Linked DNA regions of Homo sapiens. The protein of the gene in region 1 interacts with the protein of each later gene in a biochemical or structural test. Each region holds a gene or a part of one and is shown in the gene's direction. Other genes may lie near its edges.

What was found.
Region 2: the proteins of ZFAND5 (region 1) and RAD23B form a complex in vitro, tested with the Homo sapiens proteins (one study listed by BioGRID).

Annotation. Positions count from the first base shown.
Region 1 is NC_000009.12:72,361,591-72,378,171, reverse strand, and holds the start of ZFAND5 (AN1-type zinc finger protein 5), read left to right. Parts: upstream 1-12,963; 5' UTR 12,964-13,476; intron 13,477-13,579; exon of another isoform or gene 13,580-14,565; 5' UTR 14,566-14,702; intron 14,703-16,581. UniProt on the Homo sapiens protein: Involved in protein degradation via the ubiquitin-proteasome system. May act by anchoring ubiquitinated proteins to the proteasome. Plays a role in ubiquitin-mediated protein degradation during muscle atrophy.
Region 2 is NC_000009.12:107,315,868-107,332,088, forward strand, and holds part of RAD23B (UV excision repair protein RAD23 homolog B), read left to right. Parts: intron 1-2,884; coding exon 2,885-3,012; intron 3,013-6,115; coding exon 6,116-6,251; intron 6,252-8,022; coding exon 8,023-8,150; intron 8,151-8,966; coding exon 8,967-9,137; intron 9,138-13,675; coding exon 13,676-13,789; 3' UTR 13,790-16,221. UniProt on the Homo sapiens protein: Multiubiquitin chain receptor involved in modulation of proteasomal degradation. Binds to polyubiquitin chains.

The DNA of each region.
Region 1 (16,581 bases):
GAATATATTTAAATGGAACACTAAAGTTCCTTTTTTTTTTTTTTTTTTTTTTGAGAGGGAGTCTCGCTCTGTCGCCCAGGCTGGAGTGCAGTGGCTCGATCTCTGCTCACTGCAAGCTCCGCCTCCGAGTTCATGCCATTCTCCTGCCTCATCCTCCCGAGTAGCTGGGACTGCAGGCGCCCGCCACCACGCCCGGCTAATTTTTTGTATTTTTAGTAGAGACGGGGGGGGTTCACCATGTTAGCCAGGATGGTCTTGATCTCCTGACCTCATGATCCGCCTGCCTCGGCCTCCCAAAGTGCTGGGATTACAGGCGTGAGCCACCGCGCCCAGCCTGATTAAATCTTATCTCAGGATTCTGGGGAAGTTGGAATAGATTGCCTTGTGAGCAAATCCTTTCACAGTATTAGCGGTACCAGCACAGAATCTGAATGCTGGAGATGTTTTGTTGTTGTTGTTGTTTTTAGATGGAGTTTCACTCTTGTTGCCCAGGCTGGAGTGCAATGGCATGATCTCGGCTCACCTCCCGGGTTCACGCAATTCTTCTGCCTTAGCCTCTCGAGTAGCTGGGATTACAGGCATGTGCCACCACGCCTGGCTGGCTAATTTTGTATTTTTAGTAGAGACAGGGTTTCTCCATGTTGGTCAGGCTGGTCTTGAACTTCCTACCTCAGGCGATCTGCCCGCCTCGGTCTCCCAAAGCTTTGGGATTACAGGCGTGAGCCACCACACCCGGTCTGGAGATGTTGTTTAGAAGACTTCTATGCTGGGTGGGGTACTGGAGAGGACCCTCTAGTATTCACTGCAAGTCGAAAATTCTGCAACTGTCAATGGTTTAGGAAAGGCACTTACTATATTGGAAAGAATTCGACTTTGGAAGTCAGACTGACCTGGGTTTGACTTCATTCTCAGATAGCAACTATACAATTTTAAACATGTTACTTATCTCCTTGTGCCTCAGCTCTGCCTCTGCAAAAGAGGATGATCATCACTGCTTCAAAGAATTATTGTAAGAATTAGAGATAAGGCATATAAAAGCACAAAGTAAGCACAAAATAAATACTAAACATTATTTGCTCGTAACACATATAGTTCCTTTAATCTTTATGTAGTCATGTTGCTGTATTGGTTTTTATTTTCAAAATTGATTTACTGGATGGAGACGGTGGCTCACGCCTGTAATCTCAGCACTTTAGGAGGCCAAGGCGGGCAGATCACAAGGTCAAGAGATTGAGAATCGATTGAACCTGGGAGGCAGAGGTTGCAGTGAGCTAAGATCAAGCCACTGCACTCCAGCCTGGCGACAGAGCGAGACTCCGTCTCAAAAAAAAAAAAATTAATTTACTGTAAAATTCTGTCTTTTTAACATCTTTAAATATTCTATCTTAACTATAAGGTCAAGTGACTACAAACGAATGAAATTTTTTTAAAAACATTAAATTAACCATAAATTTACCTATTTAAATAAGCACTCAAAGAAATCACAGTCTTTTTTTTTTTTGAGATGGAGTCTCGCCCTGTCGCCTAGGCTGGAATGCAATGGTGCAATCTCAGCTCACTGCAACCTCCGCCTCCCAGATTCAAGCGATTCTTCTGCCTCAGCCTCCCGAGTAGCTGGGATTACAGGCTCATGCCACCATGCTCGGCTAATTTTTTGTATCATTAGTAGACACATGGTTTCACCATGTTGGCTAGGGTGGTCTTGAACTCCCGACCTCGTGATCCGCCTGCCTTAGCCTCCCAAAGTACTGGGATAACAGGTGTGAGCCACTGTGCCTGGCCAGAAATCACAGTCTTATAATTGCCAGGGACTTTAGAAGTCATCCAGTTGCATCTAACTCCTATTGCAGGAATCCTTTATTTATTTATGTATGTATTTATTTATTTTTTTGAGGAGTTTTGCTCTTGTTGCCCAGGCTGGAGTGCAATGGTGCAATCTCGGCTCACTGCAACCTCTGCCTCCCGGGTTCAAGTGATTCTCCTGCCTCAGTCTCCCGAGTAGCTGGGCTTACAGGCATGAGCCACCATGCCCAGCTAATTTTGTATTTTTAGTAGAGATGGGGTTTGAGACCAGCCTGACCAACATGGAGGAATCCTTTATTTCATTCTTTCATCCTGAAGGCTGCTCAATCTCTTAGCTTCTAAACCTCTTAGCCAGAAAAGGATGGAGAAAGAGAAGTCTTCCTGAAAGGAAGGAACTGGACTAGAAGAGAAGCTGCAAGTGCACCTGGGGTGTCAGTGCCTCCTTCTATCAGACCCACTGCACAGGGTGGTCTTCAGGTCTCCACAGAAAGCAACAAAGAAATCTTCTCTGCTTCTCTGATCTTTGGGAAAGCTGGAGGAGACTGATATGGACCATCCTTCTATATCCAATAAAAAGTACAAGAGAGCATTGGATTTCAGGGAATTTGTTTCCCCAAAAAGATCAGTTTTCTTCAAATACGATGATAATGACAGATACTGAAGTTATTCTGAAGTTCCTCTGTGCCATTATCAAGTACCTCAATAGTCTACAGCTGCAATCTATCCCATAACCTAAGACTAATATTCTCGAATCTGAAATCTGTGATGCCCATTGAACTCTACTCTTTAGTTCGCTGGACTCCCTCAATTGCCTTCGTGAAGGCTTCAAAGACATCACCTTCTGCTATATAATTAGGAAGTTCAAGGAAGCATTCTCTCCAGCATCAAAAGCTTCAGGAAATCCCAACAATTTAGGCTTAGCCTTAGACACAGTTCAGCGATAGTATTACTAAGACCTAACAGGCCAGGCGTGATGGCTCACGCCTGTAATCCCAGCACTTTGTGAGGCCGAGGCAGGCGGATCATGAGGTCAGGAGTTCGAGATCAGCCTGGCCAACATAGTGAAACCCTGTCTCTACTAAAAATACAAAAATTAGCTGGGTGTGGTGGTGCACACCTGTAATCCCAGCTACTCGGGAGGCTGAGGCAGGAGACTCACTTGAAGCCGGGAGGCAGAGGTTGTGGTGAGCCGAGATCTCACCACTGCATTCCAACCTGGGTGACAAAGTGAGACTCTGTCTGGAAAAAAAAAAAAAAAATCTCGCCACTGCATTCCAGCCTGGGTGACAAAGTGAGACTCTGTCTGGAAAAAAAACAAAAAAAAACACAAAAACCTAACAATCTCTTATTTTTTCAATTTTATATTATCCAAGCACTTAACAGACCTAATTGTTTTTTAATTTTTGGGGTGACAATCAAAGCTTGTCTGAATTTGAGGGATCCCACTTATTTCTTTATTTTTAATAATAGACTTTATTTTTAAGAGCTATTTTAGGTTCACAGCAAAATTGAGAGAAAGGTACAGAGATTTCCCATATACACCTGCCTCCACACATGCATGGCCTTCCCCATTATCAACATCCCATAGAGTGGTATGTTTGTTACAACTGATGAACCTACATTGACCCATTATTATCATTCGAAGTCCTTGGTTTAAAGTAGGGTTCACTCTTGGTGTTGTAGGTTCTGTGGGTTTGGATAAATTGATCATGACGTGTAGCCACCATTATAGTATCACACAGAGTAGTTTCTCTATTATAAAAATCCTCTGTGTTCTGCATATTCCTCCCTCTTTCCCCTCTATCCCCTGGCAACCACTTGATCTTTTTACTGTTCCCATAGTTTTGCCTTTTTCAGGATGTCATATAGTTGAAATTAACAGTACGTACTTTTCAGACTGGCTTCTTTTTTGTTTGAGACAGAGTCTCACTCTGTTGCCAGGTTGGAGTGCGGTGGTGTGATCTCGGCTCACTGCAACCTCTGCCTCCCCGGTTCAAGCGATTCTACTGCCTCAACCTCCCGAGTAGCTGGGACTACAGGCGTGCGCCAACCACGTCCAGCTAATTTTTGTATTTTTAGTAGAGATGACGTTTCACCATGTTGCCCAGGACGGTCTCAATCTCTTGACCTCGTGATCTGCCCACCTCGGCCTCCCAAAGTGCTGGGATTACAGGCGTGAGCCACCGCGCCCGGACCTCAGACTGGCTTCTTTCACTTAGTAATATCCATTCAAGTTTTCCATGTCTTTTCATGGCTTAATAACACGTTTATTTTAGCACTGAATAATATTCTATTATCTGGATGTACCACAGTTTATTTCTCCATTCACCTACTGAAGGGTATCTTGGTTGCTTTCAAGTTTTGGCAATTACGAATAAAGCTGCTATGAATATCTGTGTGCAGGTTTTTTTGTGGACATGTCTTCAACTCCTTTGAGTAAATACCAAGGAGTGTGACTGCTGGATCATATGGTAAGAGTATGTTTAACTTCATAAAAAATCATCAAACTGCCTTCCGAAGTGACTACCATTTTGTAGTCCCAACAACAACGAATAAGAGTTTCTGTTGCTTTGCATCCTCACCAGCATTTGGTGTTGTTTGTTTTCTGGATTTTGGCCATTCTAATAGGTACATAGTGGTATCTCATTGTTGCTTTAATTTGCATTTCCCTGATGACATATAATGTGAAGCATCTTTTTTTTTTTTTTTTTTTTTGAGATGGAGTCTCGCTCTGTCACCCAGGCTGGAGTGCAGTGGTGCGATCTCGGCTCACTGCAAGCTCCACCTCCTGGGTTCATGCCATTCTCCTGCCTCAGCCTCCGAAGTAGCTGGGACTACAGGCGCCCGCCACCATGCCCGGCTAATTTTTTTGTGTTTTTTAGTGGAGACGGGGTTTTACTGTGTCAGCCAGGATGGTCTCGATCTTCTGACCTCGTGATCTTCCTGCCTCAGCCTCCCAAAGTGCTGGGATTACAGGCGTGAGCCACCATGCCCGGCCTATGTGAAGCATCTTTTTATATGCTTATTTGTCATCTGTATATCTTCTTTGGTGAAGCTAATGTTTTTATTTATTTGTCCTGCTTCAGTTTATCACTTTTAATTTTTCAATAAAAAGAATTTTCCCTTACATATTTATATGCTTCACATTTAGAGTTGGTCATGATGTTGTAAGTTATAATACAAAAACAACTTAAATCAGTCATATACCAGTATCTGAAGTACTGGCTCTGAAATTCCCAGGTTCAAACTTTATCTTGTTCATTCTAGAGCCATTGATCCACATGGAATAAATATAAATTCATATCTATTTCTAGATATTTATTCACTACTCCCACTTATTCACTACCTAACAATAGTAGTGGTTAGCTATACATTTCTCTTCCAATGACAGAGCATAACTTCAGTATGCAAAGACAAACAAAAAAAAAAAGAAGAGTTTTCTGGATTAAGTTGAAAAATGTTTGTAAGTAAAATTTTAAAAATAGATATACCTTTGTCAGCTGGGTGTGGTGGCTCATGCCTGTAATCCCAGCACTTTGGGAGACTCAGGCACGTGGACAACTTGAGGCCAGAGAGTTTGAGACTAGCCTGGCCAACACAGTGAAACCTGTCTTTATTAAAAATACAAAAGTTAGCCAAGCATGGTGGTACATGCCTATAATCCCAGCTACTGGGGAGGCTGAGGCGTGAGAATCTCTTGAGTCCAGAACGAGGAGGCTGGTTGCAGTGAGCCGAGATCATGCCACTGCACTCCAGCCTGAGTGACAGAGTGAGACTCTGTCTCAAAATAAATAAATAAATAAATACAAATAGCTATATCTTTGTAAGTGAAAAATTCATAAATAAACCATTTATAAGCCAAGGGATGAGTACAGATACTCATTCCTTTGAGTACTTCATTTGAATCTATGAAGGTGGGTAAAGTCGCTCTGAGAGAGTATGAGCAGTGAAAAAACAAAGAGTGCCCGGGACCTAGACCTAAAAAATGCCAACATTTAGGAGATGGACAGATAAGCTGGAGCTAGCAAAAGAGACAGAAGTTGCCTGTTAGAGACTGCTGGGTGAGGTGAGCGATACACAAGATAAGAATGGTATGGCCGGGTGCGGTGGCTCATGCCTGTAATCCCAGGACTTTGGGAGGCCAAGGTGGGCAGATCATGAGGTCAGGAGATCGAGACCATCCTGGCTAACATGGTGAAATCCCATCTCAACTAAAAATACAAAAAAATTAGCAGGGCATGGTGGCATGTGCCTGTAGTCCTAGCTACTTGGGAAGCTGAGGCAGGAGAATCTCTTGAACCCAGGAGGGAGAGGTTGCAGTGAGCTAAGATGATGGCACTACACTCCAGCCTGGGCAACAGAGTGAGACTCTGTCTCAGAAAAAAAAAAAAAAAAGAATGGTTAACTTTCTAGGCTTCGCGCCATGGTTCACACCTGTAATCCATCTGCCAAAGCAGGCAGATTGCTTGAGCTCAGGAGTTTGAGACCAGCCTGGGCAACATGGTGAAACCCATCTCTACCAAAAATACAAATAATTAACTGGGCACGTGTCTGTGGTCCCAGCTACTCCGGAGGATAATGTGGGAGGACTGCTTGAGCCTGGGAGGCAGAAGTTGCAGTGAGCCGAGATCGCGCCACTGCACTCCAGCTTGGGTGACAAAGTGAGACTCCCTCTCAGAAAAAAAAAAAGGTTAACATTCTAATGGTAAATATAATTATGAAATAAATTTAAAGGGGGAAGTGATCCTGAAGAGGCAACAAACACTGTGCCAAAGAACAGAAGGTTGTACTCTCACTAGATATATGACAATGGACAGGATATATAACTTTGCCCTGAGCCTCAGTCAGTCAACTCCTCCAGCAAAAGGAGAGATAAGAGTTATTTCAATAGGCTGTTGTGAGAATTTATCAAATTAATACATTTGAATATACATTGTAGGTGGAAAGACATTACACAAACTTAAGATACTTGCCTTGGCTCTCTGCCTAGAACTTAGATTGCTCCAGGACAGAGGCCCACCCTACCCACTTTTCTCATGCTAGTCTTCTGTCTGAATCCTGACCTCCCTAATTGTTTCTAGCTTTTTTTCTGCTGGCTAATAGGACCTTAGGAACAATTGCCTCCTGCCTAAGCTTTATAACAGCACAGTTGCTGGGCTCTAACTAAATCACTGACACCATTCCTGTCTTCCTGGCCAACCCCACCACCCATGAACCCAGGTTATGATATGCTCCAAAGTATTGTTTCTTTTTCTTTTCTTTTCTCTTTTTTTTTGAGAGGGAGTCTTGCTCTGTCACCCAGACTGGAGTGCAGTGGCACAATCTCAGCTCATTGCAACCTCCGTCTCCTGGGTTCAAACGATTCTCATGCCTCAGCCTCCGGAGTAGCTGGGATTACAGCCACACACCACCACGCCCAGCTAATTTTTTTTCTTTTCTTTTTTTTTTTTTTCTGAGAGGGAGTCTCACTCTGTCGCCCAGGCTGGAGTGCAGTGGCACGATCTCGGCTCACTGCAACCTCCATCTCCCAGGTGATTCTCCTGCCTCAGCCTCCCAAGTAGCTGCGATTACAGGCACCCGCCACCATGCTTGGCTAATTTTTGTATTTTTAGTAGAGACGGGGTTTCACCATGTTAGCCAGGCTGGTCTTGAACTCCTAACCTCAGGTGATCCACCCACCTCGGCCTCCCAAAATGCGATGATTACAGGTGTGAGCCACCATGCCCAGCCTTAATTTTTGTATTTTTAGTACAGATGAGGTTTCACCATGTTGGCCAGGCTGGTCTTGAACTCCTGACCTCAGGTTATCACCTGCCTCAGGTGATCCGCCATGTTGGCCAGGTTGGTCTCGAACTCCTGATCTCAGATGATCCTCCTGCCTCCCAAAGTGCGGGGATTACAGGCTTGAATCACCTCACCCAGCCCCAAAGTATTGTTTCTGAGACAATCCCAGAGCTAACTACTGAGATTAACAACCCACACTTAGCTTGTTCAATAAAAAAAATTTCTTAAGAGTTGAGACCAAAATATTTTGTTTCTTAAATGGTGTTTACAACAAAATATATATACATAGTAAATCATCAGTTTCCTTCAACCTAAGTTCTTGATTTACATAAACGATTAGGCAGGCCCAGCTCGATGGCTCACGCCTTTAATCCCAGAACTTTGGGAGGCAGAGGTGGGCGGATCACCTGAAGTCAGGAGTTCAAGACAAGACTGCCAGATTTTGTTCTCTACTAAAAACACAAAAACTAGCTGGGGGTGGTGGCGGGAGCCTATAATCCCAGCTACTAGGGAGGCGGAGGCAGGAGAATCGCTTGAACCTGGGAGATGGAGGTTCCAGCCTGGGCGACGAGAGAGAAACTCCATCTCAAAAAAAATAATAAGAAAATTAAAAACAATAAAAGCTTTTAGTTTTTCAAATAGTCTCAAAAATTGTTTAATGCTACGTTGATAGTATCTAGATAGTGTCAGAAAGTCTTCTCTAATCTGGTAAGATATCTATGTCTTTTATTTGAAGATTCTTTGATCAAGTTATTTTCAGAGAAAATAATTAAGAATTTTAATTTACCAAAAGGTCTATATAATAATGAAATTGCAACTTGCTTTATCAATTTCTTATTTATTTATTTTTAATTTTTTTTGAGACAGAGTCTTGCCTGTTGCCTAGGCTGGAATGCAGTGGCATATTCTCAGCTCACTGCAACCTCCACCTCCCAGGTTCAAGCGATTCTCCTGCCTCAGCCTCCGGAGTAGCTGGGACTACAGGCACCCGCCAACAAGCCCGGCTAATTTTTTATATTTTTAGTACAGACAGGGTTTCACCGCGTTAGCCAGGATGGTCTCGATCTCCTAACCTCCTGATCCGCCCATCTCGGCCTCCCAAACTGCTGGGATTACAGGCGTGAGCCACCGCGCCCAGCCTTAATTTTTAAATTAGTGGATTTGCTCTAAATACAATACTATAATCCTTTTAGCCAATTATTTTGAAAATACTTCTATAAAACAGTCCTTTACCTTGATCTTTGAAATCTGGGAAGGGGCTGGGAACGAAAGGGAGGAAGGGCACTATGTGAACGTCCAGTGACACATCAAAGTTTTGTGCTTTTTGTGTGTGGGTTTGTTTGTTTGTTTGTTTTTTGTTTTTGAGAAGCAGTTTCGCTCTTGTTACCCAGGCTGGAGAGCAATGGCGTGATCTCCGCTGACCGCCACCTCCACCTCCCGGGTTCAAGCAATTCTCCTGCCTCAGCTTCTGGAGTAGCTGGGATTACAGGCACCCGCCACCACACCCAACTCATTTTGTATTTTTAGTAGAGACAGGGTTTCACCATGTTGGTCAGGCTGGTCTCAAACTCCTGACCTCAGGTGATCATCCCGCCTCAGCCTCCCAAAGTGCTGGGATTACAGGCATGAGCCACCACACCCGGCCACTCTGAAGTTTTTAAGACCCTAGAAAAGGCTTTGTGCTTCACCATGTTCTACTCAAGCACAGACAGAAAATGAATAGTTACTTATGACCAAGTATTATAATAATGTCATAGCAGCAATTCTTGTCTCCATAATAGGAACTTATATGTCAAGATAAAATAACTTCAGGTCTTTTACATTTTACAGTGGACTAATAACTTATATTGCTATTTTTAAGGGATGTCAGTTTTCTCTAAGAAATTTAATTACATTTGCTCTTCTCCCATCATCAATCCCCTTTCCAGGCCTAGTTTACAAAGAAAAGTGTAAGAGAACCTGCAATGACTTTACCTGAGTTCTTAAGCAGACTACCAGGTTACCTACTTTAAGGAAATAAGCCTGGCTCCTTTGGCCATGGGGATGGTTGGAACTCAGACCTGGGTGAGTTTTCAAGATCCGTTATGATTGGTTATATGCTCCCATAGCATTCTATGCTTTTCTTTCAAAATATTTACCAGTTCATAATTATATATTATATGATAATATCTTTCTCCCCAAATGACAGTAAGATCCATGAGAACAGGGTAACATCTTTTTTTTTTACATGAATGTATATCCCAGCACCAAGTTAAGTGAGTGCCTGGAAAGTAGCAAATGTGCAAAACTTTTTTTTTTTTTTGAGACAGAGTCTCGCTCTGTTATCCCAGGCTGGAGCACAGTGGCACAATCTCGGCTCACTGCAACCTCCACCTCCCCAGCTCAAGTGATTCTCCTGCCTCAGTCTCCCGAGTAGCTGGGACTACAGGCACCTGCCACTCGCCTAGCTAATTTTTGTATTTTTAGTAGAGACAGGGTTTGGCCATGTTGACCAGACTGGTCTCCAATTCCTGACCTCAGGTAATCCGTCTGCCTCCACCTCCCAAAGTGCTGAGATTATAGGCGTGAGCCACCACACCTAACCAATATCACATTTTGAGCACGACCAACTTTGCTCATTATCTGTTTTTTTGTTTGTTTGTTTGTTTTGTTTTTGAGACGGAATCTCATTTTGTCACCAGGCTAGAGTGCAGTGGCATAATCTCTGCTCACTGCAACCTCTGTCTCCTGGGTTCAAGTGATTCTCCTGCCTCAGTCTCCCGAGTAGCTGGGACTACAGGCACGCACCAACATGCCCAGCTAATTTTTGTATATTTTTTAGTAGAGACAGGGTTTCACCATGTTGGTCAGGACGGTTTCAGTCTCTTGATCTCATGATCCACCCCCCATGGCCTCCCAAAGTGCTGGGATTACAGGTGTGAGCCACCACGACTGGCTACTCATTATCTTTTTTACAGAGGTTGGTTTCAGGCCAAAGTTGACCTTCCCTAATGACTATAGAGCAAAGCCCTTTGGCATGTTATATTAGAAGCATTCTCTTATATATTCTGTGTTTAGCAATTCAGTTTGTCTTTGGAGTGCAAGTGAAAATTTAAAATATAAGAAAACAAAAATAAAACAAAAACCTTCTTAGAAGTATATCCCTTAATCTGTTACACCAGTAATATGAGACTTTTTTTTTTTAAACTTTTCCCTTTCACATGGTGTGAGCCATCTGAAAAAAAGAGGGGTCACCTGATGCCATGGTAGGGTTAAGTCAATAGTTTTCAAACTTGTGTATGCATCAGAATCACCTGGAGGACTTATTAAGCCACAGACGGCTGTGCTAACCCCCAGTTTGTGACTCCACAGGTTTGGTGCTGGGGCCTGAGAATCTGTATTTCTAATAAGTTCCCAGGTAGTCTGGAGACCACATTTTGAGAACCACTAGAAAATAGCTGCTAAAAAGGAATCTTGGTATGTTTAGGTCCAATACCTGCAACATTCTTGATTGAAACAGTCTCAGAGAAAATTATAAATGGGTGATAGAGAAGATGAATTATCAGAAGGTGACATAATATTATGGAATACACTATTCAATAATGAGCTTGCCTCATTACCCTTAGACTTTTTTTAAAGTATGCTTCTTCAGGAATTATCTTGTTTCACTCACTATAACTCCAATTCTAGAGAAAGAAAAAAATTCAAGTTAAAATTCAAGTTATTTTTGTTCTCAATAATAATCACCTCCATTGCCTCCCTGCCCTTCAGTGCCCTGGGCAAGCCTTTTTAGTCATTGTTTCTTTATCTGTAGAAAGGGACATGATAATAGTACCTATCTCAGTGAATTGCTGTGAGGATAAAATGAGACCCTAAATGGAAAATAGTTGGCACTGAAAATGGCCTGTAAATGGTAGCTGCTATTTTTTTTTTTTTTTTACTAATTCATCTGCTAATTTAAGGAAATAAATTGCAGTGGTCGTGGGACCAGTGACCCAAACTACTTAAATCTCTAATACATTAATTGATCACAGTAATAAACCCGAATTTGTTAAAAAACAAAACAAAAGGTTGTTATGCTCCAGGTACTTTGCTAACTGTGGCGGAGAACTGTTTGATTTGGCAGTGGTGGCTCAAGCTATCAGTATAGCATTCCCCCAAATACAGATTATAAATAAGGACCACCTGAAGCGCAATATGGGCCCCCCCCCACCCCCGCTCCCACCCCGGAACAACCAAAACCATATCCAGGGGAGATGCGTAGGAATCTTTAATCACCCCAGGTGATTTTTTTTCTGATTACCAACTTTGAGAAACACTGAAGGGACCTCTTCTCCATTCTATATGTGGCTAATATAAACCCTAAACATCATTTCTATGTATTCGTTAGACCGTTGTTTACTAGAAAATTTCAGAAGTCCTTTCCGACTTAGTAATTTTGTTATTTTGAGTTGAACTGAAATTCACTTGGAGCGGTCAGTTGAAAATGTTTTTTGTTTGTGCTCTGAAAAGGTTCCCAGTGTTCCGGGTAAAGTCATCCTTTCACCCATGGGGGACCTGTGCCTCGTGCCTGAACTGCCCGCCTAGTACCTCCCCCCTTGAACTTCCTCTCGCAAGCCTCCTCCTCCCGCTTCATCTGGGCCTCGGGTCTAGCTTGTTTTGTCCCTTCGCGGCTTTTGAGTAGAACATTTGGTGCTTTCCCAGTTCACGACGCTTTGCTGGAATCGTCAATTTCCAGGGATTTCACAGGCTGGCCAAAACAGTTTGTTCAGAACAGCGCCGCCGGGGCATTGGCAGCCCTGGGCGGCCGCGCGTTTCCTCACTCCGCACAACCACCCGTGACCTTGGGCGAGCGAACGCACGCCGCCAGCTGCGTCAGGGCCACGCTCGGGCTGGACTTCGGAGCTCAAAATGGGTGTGGGGAGTGAGGAGGTTTCATAAACAGAAAAGACCTCGAAGCCATAAGGCAATTCTTTTCCTTTTCTGGGGGTGAATCCTTACGATTCTTGGGGGAGGGAATGTCTGCCCAGGGCTGGAGACAAAGCGTGAGAACTAGGATGGCGAAAAACGGGTTTGAATGAGAAAATCCGAAGGAGGGAGGCTGAGGGCGGACAATTGGGTTAAAAATAGAAACGCATCCTCCACAGGACTCGCTCTTCCCAGCTCCACCCTAGGGGCCGACTGCCAGGCCAGTGGCTGGGCTCCGCGAGAAGGCACAGCAACCCGTCTCGGCCCCGCCTCCTGGACCTACTGACAGGGCACCGGGGGCGTGGCCTTGGGCCCGCGACGTCACCGCGCTCCCCGCCGCCGCCGCCGCCGCCGGGGTTTTCGCTGACGCACGGGTCCCGCCCCCTCCCCCTCTTTTCCCTCACAGCCCGGGCGCCGGGCGGCGAGTGCGTTAGTCGGCCGGGACGCGGAGCTGTGTGCATCTCCTACGCGGGCTCGCTCGCTCCCGGGAGCCGCGCAGCTTCCCCGGCGGTGGCAGGAGCGGCGAAGAGCGCCATCAGCGGGCCCTTACGGCCCCAGGCCTCGCGGCGCGCGGTCCGCTCGCCCTCCTCGTCCGCCCAACCTGCGGCCTGTGGAGGCGTGAGGCGACGACAGGCGAGCGCCTCGAGCAGCGTTAGCCGCTGCGGCCGCCGGTCCTCCCTCCACCTCCTCCTCGGCCCCCCCTCGCTTCCCTCCTCCCACTTCCCGAGCTCCGGCGTGTCCCGGCCACGCTCGACGCTGCTGCAGGAACAAAGGAAGACCCCGCGGCGGCGGCGGCGCCACCTCCGCCTGCTGCTCCGACCCGCTCCCGGCCCGCGGCGGCGGCACCAGGGCGCCCGGCTCAGCCTTCCCGGAGGCCTCGGCCCGGCCTCATCGTGCCGGCTTCGCGCGCGAACCCGGCTTTCGCATTTGGGACCCTGCAGGGTGAGTGATACGGGGCTGCGGGTGGGAGCCGGGCTCCTTGTTGCCGGGCCGGGGGCGGGAGTGAAGGGACCGGGGCGCCGCGGGCCAATGGCGAAGCCGGAGCAGGCCGCGGATGGCGGCGTCCGGGGGAGGGGAGCCCGCCCGCCAGCCCAGGAAGCACAAAGACGGAGGCGTCATCCTGTCGTCGTGGCCCGAGACCTGGCTCCCGGCGTCCCTGGCTCGCTCCACAGCACGGTCGGGAAACAATGCACGGCGTGCCGCCTCTGCGGGGCCGGCCTCTAGGCCGCTCGCCTCCGCGGCGGCGCCCGGCGTGGGCACCACGACCCAGAGAAACAAAGAGGCCGAGGCGGCGGCCGCGCCCCCTGCCCGTTGCAGCCCCCCCTAGCTCTCCCCTAAGAGGAGCCGTTCGGGGTCGGGGGTCGGGGGTCGGGGATCCGCGTGGGGCCTGCAGGCGAAGGGCTGGCCGGGCCTGCTGAGCTGCTGTTCTGCATGACTCAGTGGTTTTCGGAGAGGGCCCTGTTGGGCTTTATTGAGTGAGGCCTTTGCTTAGAGGGGGATGGGGTATCAGTGGGACCCGAACTTGTTCCAAAATCCATTGGAACATGGGGCCGGGGGTTCTCGGCGTCGTCTTTTGGGCTTCTCGACGTCGCTGCGTTTTTATCCTGAGATCCGTTTTCATGGAGGAAATGGAACACCTCCTTTGTTTGGTGCATTTAGGCTGATGAATGTGAAATTTTTTGCTCGCTTTCCACGCACTCCGTGGAGGTGTGTTTTCGGGGAAGGGTCGGATTATCTTTATTGATTGAGTGTCTCCTAAGGGATAGCATCTAAGGAGATACCAAGATAAAGGAACATATAGGTCACACATCCCCGTTCTTAAACCTGGGATTTAGATACAGACTTCTAAAAACATAAACGAATGTATTTTATTCCTTATTTTTAGGATTTTTTTTAAAGAGTAGGCTTTCAGAACTCAGTTGGTGAAAATACTGCAATTTTATCTTTGAAGTTTTTTGTTAAAATGTTTCCCCACACCCCCCTAAAAAATTAAGGATTCTTTGTAGTTGTCTCCTGTTTTCTATCTCCCAGGCCCTGAAAAGGAGCCTTTAAAAGTCAATTCTACTCCATTTGGCAAAGAGGGAACTGAAATCTGGAAAGTAAGGACTTGCCCAAGGTCACTGACTTAGTGGCAGACTAGAGACTTGAACTCAGGTCTCCATTCCCAGGTGAGTGGGAATTCATGCCATCTCATCACATCATGTGCACCTGAAAGAACTGTATTCCATAGGTGTAAAAGCTCTTTGTTCAGAATTGGAATTGGAGAATTGTTCAGTTACACTCGGGTGTTTTTTTAAGCTGTAAGTTAGAGGAAGCCATAAACTTTATAAAATCTGCATTCTAGCTATACCTGATAGAGCTGACACGTGCATGCTCAAGTTGCTAATTACTTTAAAGGCAATAAATAGTAATGGTATTTTTTTCTAAAATACAAGGGGAATGCAATACCTAATGGGAACACACATCCCCCACTTCATCCCCTAAATCCTCACTAAATGAGGATTCTTTTTTACACTGTCTCCACTGTGCTTAGTTTTTTATCAACAACCTTGACCATTTTAGCTTTGACTATGCTTTCATCTTCTAGATTGAGATTGTTCTGTAGTTTTTCCTACATTAGGAAAAAACTAGCAGCCCTTTTTTTGTTTTCTTATGTTAGATATATGAACGCTGCATCCTTAGTTCTTGGGGTTGTGTAGGAGTTGGCAGGCTTTGAGATATAAATAGAAGCTGATTTCAGAGGCCCCTGTTGACTAGGCTTTATGTGAGAGCCTCCATCCAGCTCAGCTTGTCACATTGCAGCCTTGTGACAGGCTGAAGCGCCCTCCCATGTGATCTGAGCTTCTGAGAAATATTAAAGCAAGCTGTGCACATGTGATGGCATTTAAAAGCTGGCTTTCTAGGGGAAAAAAATCTAAAAGATGGGAACCCATGTAGAAGACTCATGTCCTGGTACCTCTTGTGTGTCTCGCAGTTGAAAGTTATTTATAATGAAATGAAGGTAGACATGTTCTCTGAAGCAAAGTTGGAATACTTTGTTATCTCTGAGTGTGTGAAATCTTTAGATGGAGTATCCTCCATTTTATCTAAAACAAATATTTTAAGAATCAGATTAACTAAAATTACTTAGGTAGGTTGATCGCTTGGCCTTAAACTTTAAAGCCAATGTCACATGAGACTGGGCCTCAGTGTAGAAAATGTAAGCTAGCATACTTAAACTGGTTTTAAGGAGTGACCCAACTTTCATGCATAGGGCAAACATTCACACATATTTTGTGCGTGGTGGGCATGCAAATACATACATATTTATCATTTGAAAGCATTTTTTGCTCCTATTATGCTCATTTAAAAACCCAGCTGAAAGTGTTTATTAATAAACTTCCTAAGTGATGTTGAAATGTTTACACTACCCTGCTCCAAAATGAGTCAGCTAAATTCCAGTTAATATTTAAAGAGACAGTGTCAACTAAATTAATACTGTTGTTAAAAGTAAGTTGTGGATCTTGGTCACTCCACACAAGCTAGATTGTCTTAATATTTGTATGGTGCACTTTTACTTACAAAAGGGAAGATAAAATGTTTTGGGGAATAATTACCAGGGGTCTGGCCAGGTCAAAATTGGTTAGTCCCCTTCTCCCATCTTCTAATTTTGGTAGTTAATACTTGTTAAAACATCGTTTTTTAATAACTCACTAAAAAGTGTATTCTAGTATGTAGTTGGAAAAAATGACTGACCACAAGTTACAGCACACGAATTTTCCTTTAAGCAAATGCTCTCAAATATGCTTTTTGTACATATGCTTATACATGTTTAAGATGACATGAAAACCCTCCACAACTTTATTTTAAAATAATTTTTCTTTAATATGTATTTTCTCATCCAGAGGAAAACTTATTAATAATTTAGCACAGCGTTTTAACAAGACTTTTAGAAAAGCAAATCTTCCTTGGAAACAAATGCTTGCTATGTAAAGCTTTTTCTGGTAACCCAGCATTGAATATTAACCATTACTAAAGGTTATGTGTATATATTGACTTTAATACATT
Region 2 (16,221 bases), about 35 Mb from region 1:
TCACATTGCTTATGGGTATTTTTTTGAGATTGTATAATTTAACTAGGAAACATGATTTTAGGAGTCATAGTGTAATGATTAGGTGTGGAGACTCTTGACTGTCAGCCTGTGTTTGTATCTCTGCACCATGACTTAATACTTTTACGAATTTTTTTTTTTTTTGGAGACAGTCTTGCTCTGTCGCCAGACTGGAGTGCAGTGGCGTGATCTTGGCTCACTGCAATCTCCGCCTCCGGGGTTCAAGCAATTCTCCTGCCTCAGCCTCCTGAGTAGGTGGGACTACAGGCACGTGCCACCATGCCCAGCTAATTTTTTTTGTATTTTTAGTAGAGGCGGGGTTTCACCATGTTGGCCAGGATGGTCTCGATCTCCTGATCTCGTGATCTGCCCGCCTCGGCCTCCCAAGTGCTGGGATTACAGGCGTGAGCCACCATACCTAGTCTTTACCAAATTATTAATCTCTCCAAGCTGTACCCTCCTCATCTTTTAAAGGAGTTGAAATTAAACCTTTCTTATGAAGTAGTGAGAGAGAACTAAATGAGAAACACCATGTTAAAATAGTGCAGTTCTGATTTTTTGTAGCTCGTAATTTCGTTTGTATTGATACTGATTTCTGTATCTGGGAATTAGGTTACTGAACATGTATTGCTACTTGAGTTGCTTTGTGCTCGAATTATATCAGTAGATAAGAAAATAAATAATTAAAATTTATTGTTTTATGGGATGGGAAAAGGAAAGTCATTATTTTAAGCAAGATATCAAATGCTTAATCTGTTTGTGATATTTGGGGGTTTTTAGCTATTAAACACCTTTATTTTTGAAAATTCTGCAGAAAAAAATTATTCAACAGATACTCGGTTTCAGCTGTGTATCAGGGAAACATGCAGAATGACATGGTTTCCTGCACAGTCAAACTTGCATTCAGTTGGGGCAAGAAAAAAATAATGAAACATTAAAAAAAAAAAAAGATAAGTGATATTAACACAAAGGGCTTCCCTAAAGAAAAAACAGAAGGCTACCTAGGATGACTAGGCAATGCCTTTTAAATATGGAACTGAAGCATGTTGAAGGAACTGGCCATCTAAGATGGCTGGTGTTGTGTAAAGGCCCTGGGGCAGGAAAAGGTGTGGCCTGCTGAAGTAACACCGGGAAGATGAGTGTGGTGGGTGGAGGATTGTTGAGGGCTGGGAGCCAGAAATAAAATGAGGGGTTTTGCGCACACGCGTGCGTGTGTGTGTGTGTGTGTGTGTGTGTTTACTTGACTTTTGCAACTGGCTGAAGAACAGATTATAGATATGGAGACAAGAGTTGGAAACAGGGTGTAATCCCATCTAGAGACTGTTGTGGGCTTGTCTTCAGTGATGACAGTAGAGAATGAAGAGATGGGTTTGGGGTGTAATTTAGAGATAGGACCTACCAGGTATGCTGGTAAGTGAGGTGTGGAAGGAAGAGGAAAAGGAACTGAAATCACCAGGGTTTTTGTCCAAGTGCTTAGGTAAATAGAGGTGCCATTTGTTTAAAGAGAGCAGACAGACAATGGTGGGACACATTTGAGAGGGAAATCTGAATTGCAATTAGTTGAGGAATGAGTGGAATGTGAGAAAGTGGACACATGTTCAATAGCTATGGCTGTGATGAGAAGACAGCAGATGGTTCCTCAAAGAGGAATTAGGATGAAGTCAAAGGTGGGAGGTGTGTTTTTGTTTTAGAGTGAAATATAGGACATAGTTAACTACTGACCCAGGATAATTACACAGAGGGGTAAAGATGTTGGTGGAGAAGAGGGAGGATAACCAAATCCAGTTTGGTTTGAGTGTGAGGCAACAATAAAGGTAATGGTCCCCAGAACACAAGCAGAAGAAAGGATAGTTTTAAGTGAGGTAAGTTTATGAGGAAAATAGGTTTCATTTATTCAGAGTGTTGTCTGTATTGAGAGGAGGGAGCATAGGAGTCTGTAAGAAGTGACTTGGAATATTAGCGCTTTGGGCATTTTACCAACTTTGTATAGTGTACAAGATTTTAACTTTCTAGCTCCTAACCTCTCTTTCCCCCGTTTCAGTTATATAAGGTATCAAAGGGAAACTGTGAACTTGTTCCATCGGAGTTGATGGTTTGAAATACCATCCCTTCCCCAGCATGTTTTCAGAATTTGGTGTCTCTTCTTACCAGTTGCCTTCCCTGACCTCCTGCTAATTCTCCCTTACCTTCATACCTCATTTTTCTATTGTACTCTGAAACATATTATATGAGTTTCCTGTTGCTACTGTAGTAAGTTACCACAAACTTATTGGTGTAGAACAACACAGATTAACTGTCTTCTAGTACTGTAGGTTAGAAGTGTGACACAGGGCTCACTGTACTAAAATCAGGGAGCCGGCATTCCTTTTTGGAGACTCCGGGGAAGAATTTTTTTCCTGATCCTGTCCTACCATACCTTGGCTGGTAGCCCCTTTCTGCATCTTCAAAGGCAACAGCATAACATCTCTCATCCTGGTTTTGTCTCCTCCTCCTCACACCTGTTTCTCTGACCCTCTCATCTGCCTCCTCCTACTACTATTAAGGATTCATGTCATTACACTGGACCCACCTGGATAATCCAGAATGAGGTCTCTGTCTTAAAGTCAGCTGATTAGCAACCTTAATTTTATCTATAACCGCAATTTCCCTTTGCCTTGTAACCTATTTATAGGTTCCAGGGATCAAACCAGAGGGCATCTTTGGGGGACCATTACCTACTACATATATGTTGTAATTTATACTGTTACTCATCTTTGTATTCCCAGCATAGTAGTTCCTGAAATGTTGTATACATGAATCAATAAATGTATAGAGAATGCTTATTTATTAAATGTTCCTTTTTTTCCCCTCCACCCTCCCTTTTTAGTGACGGGTCAGTCTTACGAGAATATGGTAACTGAGATCATGTCAATGGGCTATGAACGAGAGCAAGTAATTGCAGCCCTGAGAGCCAGTTTCAACAACCCTGACAGAGCAGTGGAGTATCTTTTAATGGTGAGAAATATGTTTTACTTTACTCCATTCTGTTGTTTAAGATTAAAATCTCAAAGAAACAGATTTTAAAGGACCAGTTCACTTGTCACTGATATATGCTAGATGATATACATAATGCTTTTTTTTTTCTAGTATGTTTGTATTTTGTGTTAATAAAATGTAACCTTTTTTAATCTAATGGTCCAACATTGTAGTAGCTTTTTAGGTGCCACTATGCGTGAATTATTCAGAACAAAAATTTCTTTTTTCTTTTTTTTTTTTTTTTTTTTGAGACGGAGTCTCGCTCTGTCGCCCAGACTGGAGTGCAGTGGCATGATCTCTGCTCACCACAAGCTCCACCTCCCAGGTTCACGCCTTTCTCCTGCCTCAGCCTCCTAAGTAGCTGGGACCACAGGCGCCTGCCACCATGCTCGGCTAATTTTTTTGTATTTTTAGTAAGATGGGATTTCACCATGTTAGCCAGGATGGTCTTGATCTCCTGACCTCGTGATCCGCCCGCCTCAGCCTCCCAAAGTGCTGGGATTACAGGTGTGAGCCACCGTGCCTGGCCAAAATTTCAAGCTTGAGAATCCGGGCCAAATTCTTTTGCTTATACTGTGTATATTTCTGTAATAAGTTGCCAGCTTTTTAAAAACTGGGAAATTTCACATAAAAGTACAGATTTCTGGTTTAACTGGACAACTTTGATCCCAGATTTTTGCAAGGGATTAAGGAAAATATTTTAGATCGTGGAATCTAATTCATTATCCTCTGATTCACTCTGTTACCAACGTAACATCATGCATTTAATGAATGATGTTACTACCTGGTTCCGTTGGCATTTGAATTTGTTTTTATAGTCAGTAGGAGTTGAGGGACTTTTTGAATAAAGTATTCTTTTTTTTACTGGTAATGGGAGTTTTTGAGAAATAGGTTGTTGTGGACATCAACTGAAACCCTTGGTATTAAGATGAAAGTCTGCTAGTTTTACAGATGTGACACAGGCTAAAGTAATTGAATTAAGTTTTTTAAAATCTCAGACTTCTATAATTGTCTGGTGTTTTGGAGTATTATCAAAGTCTGAATTGCCCTAAATATCATCTTAAAGTTGCCTGATTCTAACCCTTTTGGGAATTACATCCACAGTTTAACCCATTCCTTTGTGTCTAGGTTGTACTTCTGTTAAAAACTCCTTTCAGGTAGCTAGCTAGTTTCAGAAGAGTCAGTTATAAGCCTCATAACTGTACTCTGCCTCCACCATTTATTTGCCTATGCCTTTGCATGTGAAGTTCACAAAACCTTTTTCTTAGCATATTATTTTATCTTTTTAAATTCACTTTTTCATTATCTTCTTGAGTAGTGTCTTTAAATGCTGGCAGTTTATCCAGTTTGTTTGGAATTGTGGAATTAATAATTGTTGTGAATTTGTTTGGTGAGGAGTGTGTACCCTAAACAGATTGTATAAAAGTATTAGCTTTTATGGAGTGGCTTTCATTTACACCTGATTTAGAATTCTGTATAAGTTCAACAGTATCAGTTATTTTGATCTAATAGATGTGGAGTTTTGAGGTATAAAAATACAGAATCATTGTTACCAAATGCTAAAACTGCTGTAGAGCATCAAATGCAAATAAATAGATGATACATGAGTTCATCAAAAACAATTTATAACTAAAATGTTTTTTATATATTTGCTCTTTGTTTCATAGACTGAAGGGGAAAAGTTGCTTTTAACTGTTACTAGTTAAGAGATAGGTTAAGGTGAACGGATGGAAAGAAGAAATGTTGAGCATTTATATAAGAGGCTATGTAATGTGTGAGAATAGAGGTCGATCTATAGCAATAAAGATGAACTTTTTAGTTTAATAAAAGAGAATTTGATGGACGCCCTGGATCCTAAATTTGTATGTAGTTTGTTAGCACTTAAATAACTGCCCATCTGAGTTAAGGGTTTGCGTTGGTTAACTCATTCAAAAACATTGGTTTTAATGCCTGGAGTGACATCTAATCCATGCAGCCATTTTCCTGCTGTGTTACTCTTCATCCTTTATATGTTGTTGCTTTTGGCTTCTGGTTTATTAGGGAATGGAAGCATTTATCATCTTATTCAATTGTAATACTTGGTTCTTTATTCTCTTCAAAATCTATAAGAACTTGATAAAGACTTTTTAAAAATTTTAAATGACAAGTCTATCAATCATGTGCATCAAAATAGGTGTCCCAAAAGAGTTTAGTGCATGCAGTTTTAAGCTCTTAATAACTTTAAAAGATAAGTACTATAAACTTACAAAAGGCATCACCTAAAAACTAAATGGTTTCAATTTCTTTTATATCGATTTTATGAATTTTGAAAAATTAAATTTTTTGAGATACTTTATCTCATTTTTTGAGATACTTTAAGTATCTCATTTATGAGATACTTTAAGTATCTCATTTATGAGATACTTTGACACTTTAAGAAACACTTCACTGAAAAGTACCTCAAATTTATGAGATACTTTCTGAGTGACACTTTCTCAGTACCATGGATCAGTAGGGGAGATCCTCCTGCCTGGCCACTGTGTACCTGGTCTGTATCCATTAGATATTTTTTCCCCCAGGAGTCATTTCAGAACTGTCAAGTGTGCATCAAAACCTCTTTTTGGATTATCTTAAGCTAGAGTTGCAAACTCAATCCTTTTTATCACTGAGTAACAGCTGATAAAGATTTCTAAGAAGTTAAAAAGTCAACTGAACTAATAGGTAGCACAAAAACCTTTGGTTGTGTTCAGTTTTAAGAAGGTACATGTATCAATATTTTTCAAATTTGATGCTAATTACGTGTGCCTGGTAGGTGTCTTATTGAACAACACAGAGAATATTTCCATCATCATGGTAAGTTCTGTTGGACAGTGCTGCTTTGCATTATTATAGCAATGTGGGTTTTTCTATAATGCACCCAGGTCATTTCTAATCTAATTTGAATCCATGCAGCTTAATAATCCTTTACTTTTAATTGAAGCAGACATCTGTTTGATGCTTTTGAAAATCAAACAAGATGTTAAATAGACTATAAATCTTTTACTCTGTATAATATTTAATTTTGCATGATGGGATATCTTAAAGCTTGGAAATTCTATTACAGGGAATCCCTGGAGATAGAGAAAGTCAGGCTGTGGTTGACCCCCCTCAAGCAGCTAGTACTGGGGCTCCTCAGTCTTCAGCAGTGGCTGCAGCTGCAGCAACTACGACAGCAACAACTACAACAACAAGTTCTGGAGGTAAAGCGGAATCTTCTGGATGGGGAGGGAATGGCCCTGAATTTTTAGTGTAAAATAATTTAACCTGAAATACTTCAGAAATGACGTTCATTCCCAGAGCAGTCGAATAATTCGTTAAGTTCTCTCTTCACTAATGTTTGAGAAAGGCCCAAAAGAAACTTTCCCAAGTGGATGTAAAAGGTATCCTTGCTGATATTAAACATCAGTGTTGCAGTTTTGCCGAAGGGCATATTCTGTTTTATTTGTTTTAAGGAAAAGATGCTTTCCAGTTTGTATTTAGTGTTACTTTCTGATGCCATTCAGAATGGTTTGCTCACTTTGTCTCTTACTCTCTCCATAAATGTTACAAAGTGTATGTAATTTCAAAGCCAGCAGGATTTTAGTAATTATACAGCCAAGGAAATGAAACCGTGAGAGGTTTAAAACCTTGTATCTAGAGGAGAAAGCAAAGCTTGAATTGAAGTCTCTTTACTGGGGTGCTGACCATACCCCACACATTGCTATAGGTCTGACTACAGAGCAAAGCCTGGAACCTGCGGTCAGCTTAGGAATTACGCAGTGTTCTCCTTCGTTCGTTCTTCTGTATATTAATAAAGTAATTTAAACTGTTGATCTTGAAAAGGCCATTCTTCCATGCATTTCCTAGCTCTGATAATGATAGTCACCTCTGGTTGACAAAGGTCACTCAGTGCTTTGTGTACAGTCTCCCAAGGACAGGCCCTTTGTTTGTTGTGATTCAGCATATGGGAGTGGAAAGAGATGACCACAGCTCTGCTTTGGATTTGGGGTCCTGTTCCTTTCAGCACTTATTAGGTGACATAGTCTCTAAGTCTCGTTGCCTTCACCTGTAAAGCTGGTATTATATATGGAAGAACAAAAAACCCATGTGCTGTGGTCATTTCAATTGGAATGATTGTCTTCCTGAATAGGAAATTACAACATACATCTAAAAATTCTCTTTTATTCATTAGTAACCTCAAAAACAATTCCTGTATGTACGATTTTTGGTTTCCTATAGCATAACCAGACAAGTACCAGCACCCTGAAAAAGCCAGAAGTTCTGTATTTTATATTTTATTTGGCATTATTAACATTTATTATTGTGAATGGATTTTAGACTGAAGAGTTTAGATATATTAGTACTAGATTGCCATACAGCTTATTTATCCGAGTTTTTGTAGTTCACAAATGTTTGAAAATTAATGGTAATAACCGGAAGTCTTCCTTAATGTAAGTTTGGATTAAAGTTTCTCCTGATTTGCAAAACCTGACCTCAGACTTTAAATATCTTTTTCTTCTTTGGTTTCTTGAATTCCTAGGAATTCAAGCTCAGATTGTGTTCTTTTAGGGGTTTTCATTGTTTATAAAGTAAGTGAGTTTTTGTTTTTGTTGTGGTGTATATTTTTCTTAGGAACTTTTAAGCAACAGGAACAACTTTTAGTACTTTTTATTTTGATAGAACACACACAGGAGACAAGTTTCTAGTATTATTTTATAACGTTGAGTGCCAAGGGCAATTATAGGAAAGTTTGGTTCATATTACAGTCAGCGTTCTGCACTCCCTGCCTTTGCTAATAGGAGTAATTTTTGCCGTATAAAACTTGCAAGTTGGTACAGTTGGAAGATTTCATCATTATTTACTTCATTTTATTACATCTGAGAACTCAAATCATTTTTTCTTTGATAGTGTTTGCTGTCTAAATGTATTATTTAACCACTGTTTGTGTATGTATTTACTGCTTTTGTTTAGAAATGTTTATGTGTATTTTAGGACATCCCCTTGAATTTTTACGGAATCAGCCTCAGTTTCAACAGATGAGACAAATTATTCAGCAGAATCCTTCCTTGCTTCCAGCGTTACTACAGCAGATAGGTCGAGAGAATCCTCAATTACTTCAGGTGACTAATCAGTGTCAGTTTCACAAGTGATTTAGAGTGTGTCACAATTTGAAAAAGTCCATGAACGGTCCTTCCCCTCCTCAAATACAACTCTGTATTTGAGAATGTGAATGTTTTCTTCCAAGCTACACTTAGATATTGTAATCTAGATAGGTGTACTAAAAAAACAGTTGGGATATGGAGGTTGGGTTAAATTAAGTTGACCAAATAGTAGTAAGTTTGGGAAACATTTTATATTTCCTTTTTGGAGATTCCCACTACACATTAATATGTTAAAGAATTTGGGAAGCTGTTTAACAGAGAAACTGCCTAACTTTAAATCACTTTTCACAAGCTTATTACTCAGTTCCTTTTTCTTAGGAACTTTTAAGCAACAGGAACAACTTACTCTTAGAAAAAATAGCTGTGGGGCTTCTTTAGTGATCAGATCACCAAGTATTTGAATTTTATACAGCATTTTAATGCCCACTAGTGTGGAAGGTAAAAAATACATGCAAGTATTAAGAATAAGTTCTATTCTTATAGTCCCACAGTAGTTTTTTTTGTTTGTTTTTTGTTTGTTTTGTTTTTTTAAGCACAGGAGGCTCAGAGCACTTAAGAATTTGAATTTCTTCACTGTTTACTTTGCCCAAAAGTACTGAATTTCTTTACTATTGTATAAGAAATCACATCCTTCCAAAGACTGAATAATCCAGAATCACTAAATTACGTTTGCAAAAGTGTAGCCTTTTCTCTTAGTAATATTTAGAATTTCTCTGTTCCTGCAGATACTTAATATCAGTGTATTATTTTTCTCTGTCCTTCATATCACCACAGCAAATTAGCCAACACCAGGAGCATTTTATTCAGATGTTAAATGAACCAGTTCAAGAAGCTGGTGGTCAAGGAGGAGGAGGTGGAGGTGGCAGTGGAGGAATTGCAGAAGCTGGAAGTGGTCATATGAACTACATTCAAGTAACACCTCAGGAAAAAGAAGCTATAGAAAGGGTGAGTTTAAGTAAAACTTTAAAAAAATTAGTTCTTGGCTGGGCTCATGCCTGTAATTCCAGCACTTTGGGAGGCCAAGGCAGGTGGATCACCTGAGGTCAGGAGTTCAAGACCAGCCTGGCCAACGTGGTGAAACCCCATCTCTACTAAAAATACAAAAATTAGCTGGCGTGGTGGCACATACCTGTAATCTCAGCTACTTGGGAGGCTGAGGCAGGAGAATTGCTTGGACCTGGGAGGTGGAGGTTGCTGTGAGCCGAGATTGTGCCACTGCACTCCAGCCTGGGCAACAGAGTGAGACTCTGTCTCAAAAAAAAAAAAAAAAAAAAAAAAAAAATTCCTTAGTCACACTAGCCCCATTTCAAATGCTCAGAAGTCACATATTAATAATAAGGTTTTTCTATAATTTCTTTCAATAGTGTCCTGTAGTTTTCAGTGTAGAAGTTGTGTAATACTTTTGTTAAAATTATTTCGAAGTATTTTTATTCTTTTTGATGCTGTTATAAATGGATTTTTCTCTTAATTTCATTTTCAGACTGTTCATTGCTAACTATATAAAAATACAATTTAATTGTGTATATTGATCTTTTATCATAAAACCTTCTTGAACTGTTATTTATTCATTAAGTAGTTTGTGCATGTGTTCATTAGGATTTTCCATATACAAGGTCATGTCATCTGCACATGGAGACAGTTTTACTTCTTTTCCAATATGGATACCTTTTATTTCTTTGTCTTATTTAACTGCCCTATCTGGAGCCTCCAGTATATTATTAGACTAGCAAGAACCAACAACATCCTTGTCTGGTTCTTGATCTTAAGGGAAAGCATTCAGTCTTTCATCACTAAGTATGATATTATCTATGGGTTTTTTGTGGATGCCCTTTATCAGATTGAAGAAATTCTCTTCTGTTACTAGTTTGTTCATCACGAAAAGGTGTTGGATTTTGTCAAATTTTTTTTCTTTCTTTATTAAGATGATCATGTGATTTTTGTCCTTTAGTATGCTTTATTACATTGATTGATTTTGTATGTTGAACCAACCTTGCATTTCTGAGATAAATTTTACTGGTTACAGCATATGATCTTTTTTATATGTTGCTGGATTTAGCCTGCTTGTATTTTGTTGAGGATTTTTGCATCTGTTCATAAGTCATATTGGTCTGTAGTTTTTTTGTGATGTTTTTGTCTGAATTTGGTGTCTGGGTAATACTGGCCTCTTAGGGTGAGTTGGGAATTATTCTCTCCTGTTGTCTGGAAGTATTTATTAAGAATTGGTGTGGGCTAACACGGTGAAACCCCGTCTCTACTAAAAATACAAAAAAAATTAGCCAGGCGTGATGGTGGGCGCCTGTAGTCCCAGCTACTCGGGAGACTGAGGCAGGAGAATGGCGTGAACCCGGGAGGCGGAGCTTGCAGTGAGCCGAGATTGCGCCACTGCACTCCCGCCTGGGCCACAGAGCGAGACTCTGTCTCAAAAAAAAAAAAAAAAAAGAATTGGTGTGAATTTTTTGAATAGTTGATAGAATTCACCAGTAGTCTGGTCCTGGGCTTTTTTTGGGGGGAAGTTTTGTGATTATTGATTCAGTCTCTTGTTACTTGTCTATTCAACTTTTGTATTTCTTTTTTTTTTTTTTTTTTTTTTTTGAGACAGAGTCTCGCTCTGTTGCCCAGGCTGGATTGCAGTGGCGTGATCTCCGCTCATTGCAAGCTCCACCTCCTGGGTTCACACCATTCTCCTGCCTCAGCCTCCCGAGTAGCTGGGACCACAGGCACCCGCCACCATGCCCGGCTAATTTTGTTTTGTATTTTTTTAGTAGAGACGGGGTTTCAACATGTTAGCCAGGGATGGTCTCGATCTCATGACTTCGTGATCCACCCGCCTCGGCCTCCTAAAGTGCTGGGATTACAGGCGTGAGCCACTGCACCCGGCCAACTTTTCTATTTCTTTTAGAGTCAGTTTTGGTGGTTTTTGACTTGGAATTTGTCTATTTTATCTAAGCTGTCTAATTTGTTGGCGTGCAATTGTACATATTTCCTTATAATCATTTTATTTCCTCTTTTGATAAAGTAATAATGTTCCTGCATTTATTCCTGATTTCAGTCATTTGAGTCCTAAGATATTTTTGTTTTTTCCCTTCAGTTTAGCTAAAGGTTTTAATTTTGTTCATTTTGTGGTGGTTGTTGTTAATGACAAAAATAACTTTGGGTTTTGTTGATTCTCCCTATTGTTTTTCTAGTCTTTTGTTTTGTTTTGTTTTAAGTCTCTCTAATGTTTATTTCCCTCTTGCTTGCTTCTAGTTTGTTCTTCCTTTTTTAGGTTAGGTTTAGTTTAGTTCTTTGTTTAGTTTTAGTTTAAGATTAAATTATTATCTATCTTTGTTAGCATAGATGTTTATAGCTATAATATTCCTTCTGCGTTTATGCTATAGTAGCATCCCATAAGTTTTAGTATGTTGTATTTTTGCTTTCTTTCATCTCAAAATGTTTTTTAATTTCCCATTTGGTTTCTAATTTAATTCATTCGTTATTTAGGATTGTGTTAATTTCCACAAGTTTATGAATTTCCCACATTTTCTCCTTTCGATTTCTAAATTCATTCCATTATAATCAGAGAATATACTTTCAATACTTTTCAACTTATTGAGGTTCGTTTTGTGGCCTAACATGGTATTTCTGAAGAATGTTCTATGTATACTGAAGAAGAATATAGTGTAGTTCTTATTAAGTGGTCTATAAATATCTGATAGATCTAGTTTGTAGTCAAGTCTTCTTCCTTAGCTGTTTTATCTATTATTGAAGGTGGAGCTGTAGTTGTCTCTATTATTGTTAATTGCCAATTTCTACCTTTAATTCTCAGTTTTTATTTTATGTATTTTGTGGCTCTGTTATATATAATTGTTGTGTCTTCCTGAACCCTTTTTATCATAAAATGCCTTTTGTCTATAGTAACAATTTTTATCTTAAATCTGTTTCCTCTGATATAGCCATTCTAGCTCTTTTTTGGTTACCATTTGCATAGTATATACCTTTTTCTATCATTTTACTTTCAACCTACTTGTGTCTTTGAATCTAAATTGTGTGTTTTGTAGAAGCAGGCAGTTGGATTGTACCCTTTACTTCACCTATCCTAGCTTTAATCTGGATAAAACCCAGATAACAAACTGATTTTTTAGTTTCTTCTGCTTTCATAGATGAATAGTTATTCGTGATGAATTGGGATTTTTGCCCAAATTTTAAGGGTTATTTCCAAATATAATCTGACACAGCAGTCTTTAACCTTTTTGGCACCAGGGACCAGTTACGTAGAAGACCTTTTTTTCTACCAACATAGGTGGGGTGGGCGCAGTGATTTTGGGATGAAACTGTTCCACCTCCGATCATCAGGCGTTAGTTAGGTTAGGAAGTGGGGTGGGGCGGTGGTTTTGGGATGAAACTGTTTCATCTCACATCATCAGGCATTTGTTAGGCTATCATACGGAGCACAGACCCTAGATCCCTCTCATGCACAGTTCACAGTAGGGTTCATGCTCATATGAGAATCTAATGCCGCCACTGATACAACAGGAGACGGAGCTCAGGTGGTAATTCGAGTGATGGGGAGTGGCTGTAAATACAGATGAAGCTTCACTTGTTCGCCCACTGCTCACCTCCTCCCGTGCGGCCCAGTTCCTTGCTCACCCACTGCTCACCTGCTCCTGGGCAGCCCAGTTCCTAACAGGCCAATGGCTGGTGCCAGTTCACGGTCTTGGGGTTTGGGACCTGTGATCTAACTCAAGGTGATTGAGACAATTGAGGAGGGTGACATTTGGCTGAGTTTTTAAAGGCTTTTAAAAGGAGTGAGTATTGTCACAAGTGATTTTTAATATAATAGACTAGGAAAATGAAATTAAGTAGCTGGTATTACCATTTAAAATGCTGTAACTGTTAAGCAGATAAAAATAGAACATTATCTTCAAAATGTACCATGTATTACTAATAATTGGTCACCTGTTTTTCTAGTATGGAGTGTTGAATAAAGCAAGGAGATTGAGAGTGATGTTTGATCCAAATGAAAGACATGAGTTGACATTAATAAATAAAACATAATTTGCTTTTAATTTAGAAATAGGTGAGGTGGTTAAACTATACTGCAGGTACTCTCATCCTTATCTTCACTCTTAATATACTAAAAGCCATTTGATTTACATATTTCTGTAGAGTCATTTATTTTTAAACCATAGCAGTTAGCAGCTAATTTTTAATTAGGCCAAAGAGTATTTGCATAGTATCTATTAAGCTTTAACTAGAAACAAAGACTTTTTTAGGTGATTAGTAAAGGAAAGGGTCTAGATTCCATCTAATCCCTTGGGTTGGGCAGTAAATCCATATTGATAGAGATGAATTCATGTAAAATTCTCAAGAGCTTTTTTGGGTTGCAGTATGTTTTTGAGTAATGATTTATCTTTAGTGCTATGCTGGAATCTATAATATGTAAATAAAATTAAATGTGCCATAATTGGTGTGTTGGATTTATATTTTTTTCCTTTTTCTTCCAGTTAAAGGCATTAGGATTTCCTGAAGGACTTGTGATACAAGCGTATTTTGCTTGTGAGAAGAATGAGAATTTGGCTGCCAATTTTCTTCTACAGCAGAACTTTGATGAAGATTGAAAGGGACTTTTTTATATCTCACACTTCACACCAGTGCATTACACTAACTTGTTCACTGGATTGTCTGGGATGACTTGGGCTCATATCCACAATACTTGGTATAAGGTAGTAGATTGTTGGGGGTGGGGAGGGAGGGATCTAGGATACAGGGCAGGGATAAATACAGTGCATGTCTGCTTCAATTAGCAGATGCCGCAACTCCACACAGTGTGTAAAATATATACAACCAAAAATCAGCTTTTGCAGGTCTTTATTTCTTCTGTAAAACAGTAGGTAACTTTTCCTAGGTTTCACTCTTTTTAGTGTACTAGATCCAGAAACTTAGTGTAATGCCCTGCTTTATATTTCTTTGACTTAACATTGGTTTCAGAAAGAATCTTAGCTACCTAGAATTTACAGTCTCTGTTTCATGGCAACACTGGATAATGGCTTTGTGAAATTTAAAAAATTTTTGTAGCGACTGTAAACAGAAATGCCAAATTGATGGTTAATTGTTGCTGCTTCAAAAATAAGTATAAAATTAATATGTAAGGAAGCCCATTCTTTCATGTTAAATACTTGGGGTGGGAGGGGAGAAAGGGAACCTTTTCTTAAAATGAAAATAATTACTGCTATTTTAAAATTTCTTGATCATTGAATGTGAGACCCTTCTAACATGATTTGAGAAGCTGTACAAGTATAGGCAGAGTTATTTTCCTGTTTACATTTTTTTTTTGTTTTGGGGAAAAAATTGGTAGGTGTCTAATTACTGTTTACTTCATTGTTATATTGCAGTAAAAGTTTTAAAACAACCATTGCATGTTTGCTTTTGATGTATCCCTTTGTGAAATTAGCACTTTTGGGGCCAATGGAGAAATGCAGCATTCACTCTCCCTGTCTTTTCCCCTTCCCTCAGCAGAAACGTGTTTATCAGCAAGTCGTGAGTCAAACTGCTGCCTTTTAAAAAACCCACAAAATGCTGATTCAGTTCAAAATTAATGCAAATGTTTCAAAACTGGGTTTCTGATATTTGTAAATGTGTTTCTTTATTAGATAAGAGTGTATTACCATTAAAGTCATTAGTATAATATTGCTTTCAAAAAGAAATGGTAGACAAAACTATAATCCAGCATCTTTTATTGCATTGGAAAGACTGGCAAAGTCTTTTGGATGGGTTGGGAGATGTGGCTGGAAAGTACTTTGGAAAATATACAATCAAGATATCTCATGGCATATTAAAAGAAAAATCTTAATAGCAGTGTTGGCTTTTATTTGGATTTTTTCATCTCAGTTTTTTCTGTGGAATCTCCTTCATTGGCATTGTTATTTAATCATAAACGGGGCAGATGTCTACTTGTTCAGTTTTTCAAATCTGTTTTCCTGAGTATAAATAAGAGTATTTAAAGAAATAATTTGGATTGCTTTTGTTTTTTGTTTCCTTTTTTTTAACCATCTGATACTAAGAAGATGAATTTGCACAGATTTCTCTGCATAATTTCTCAATATCTTTAGCACAGTATGGTGATGATGACTTTTAAGCATTTACATCACGTACTCATAACCTATTATGAAAATAAATGAAACTGGCTGGGTATGGTGGCTCATGCCTATAATCCCAGCACTTTGGGAGGCCGAGGTGGGCAGATCACTTGAGGCCAGGAGATTGAGACCAGCCTGACCGTCATGGCGAAACCCCGTCTATACTAAAAATACAAAAAATAGCCAGGCATGGTGGCGCACGCCTGTGGTCCCAGCTACTTGGGAGGCTGAGGCATGAGAATTGCTTGAACCCGGGAAGTGAAGGTTGCCGTGAGCTGAGATCACACCACTGCCATAAACATGACAGGCTTTTGGACTTTGTATTACCTGTATGTTTTATAATGGATCATGCATAATTTCTCAGGAGAATAAAATGAGAATTCATATATACGTTCATCTTTCAAGTCAGAGCAATGAGTTGGGAAAAGAGGTGGCATTTCTGATCGGATAATGGAATACTCTCATTTATTTTATGACATTCTCTGTCTACTCAGATCATAGTGAAAACTGGAAACAAAAAAAAAAAACAGCCTCTTCTTGGAAAGTGACAGCAGAAGGTGGCATGGAGCTTGTGTCCTTGGACAACAAATCTGGATATACTAGGATTAATTATCAGAAGACAGCTCAGGCCAAGTTTTGATCGTTCCATACAGTACCTTGTTTATCTGCTTCTTAAAGAATCAGCCGAGACACCATAAAAGAAATAGGCTTTTTGTGCCTTTTGCTGTTAATGTTTAATTTACAAACTGTTTTGGTAAATCTCTTAATGTAAGTAGCTATTTGACTTTGGAATTTTGCATTCGAGGTATACTGTCATTTCTTGAAATCTTTTTCTCGTTTAGTTGCTCTGTGGGAAATGTGAGGAAGCCTAAGTTTGTATTTGTAAATTTCTTATGCCATCCTCTAGTCAAATT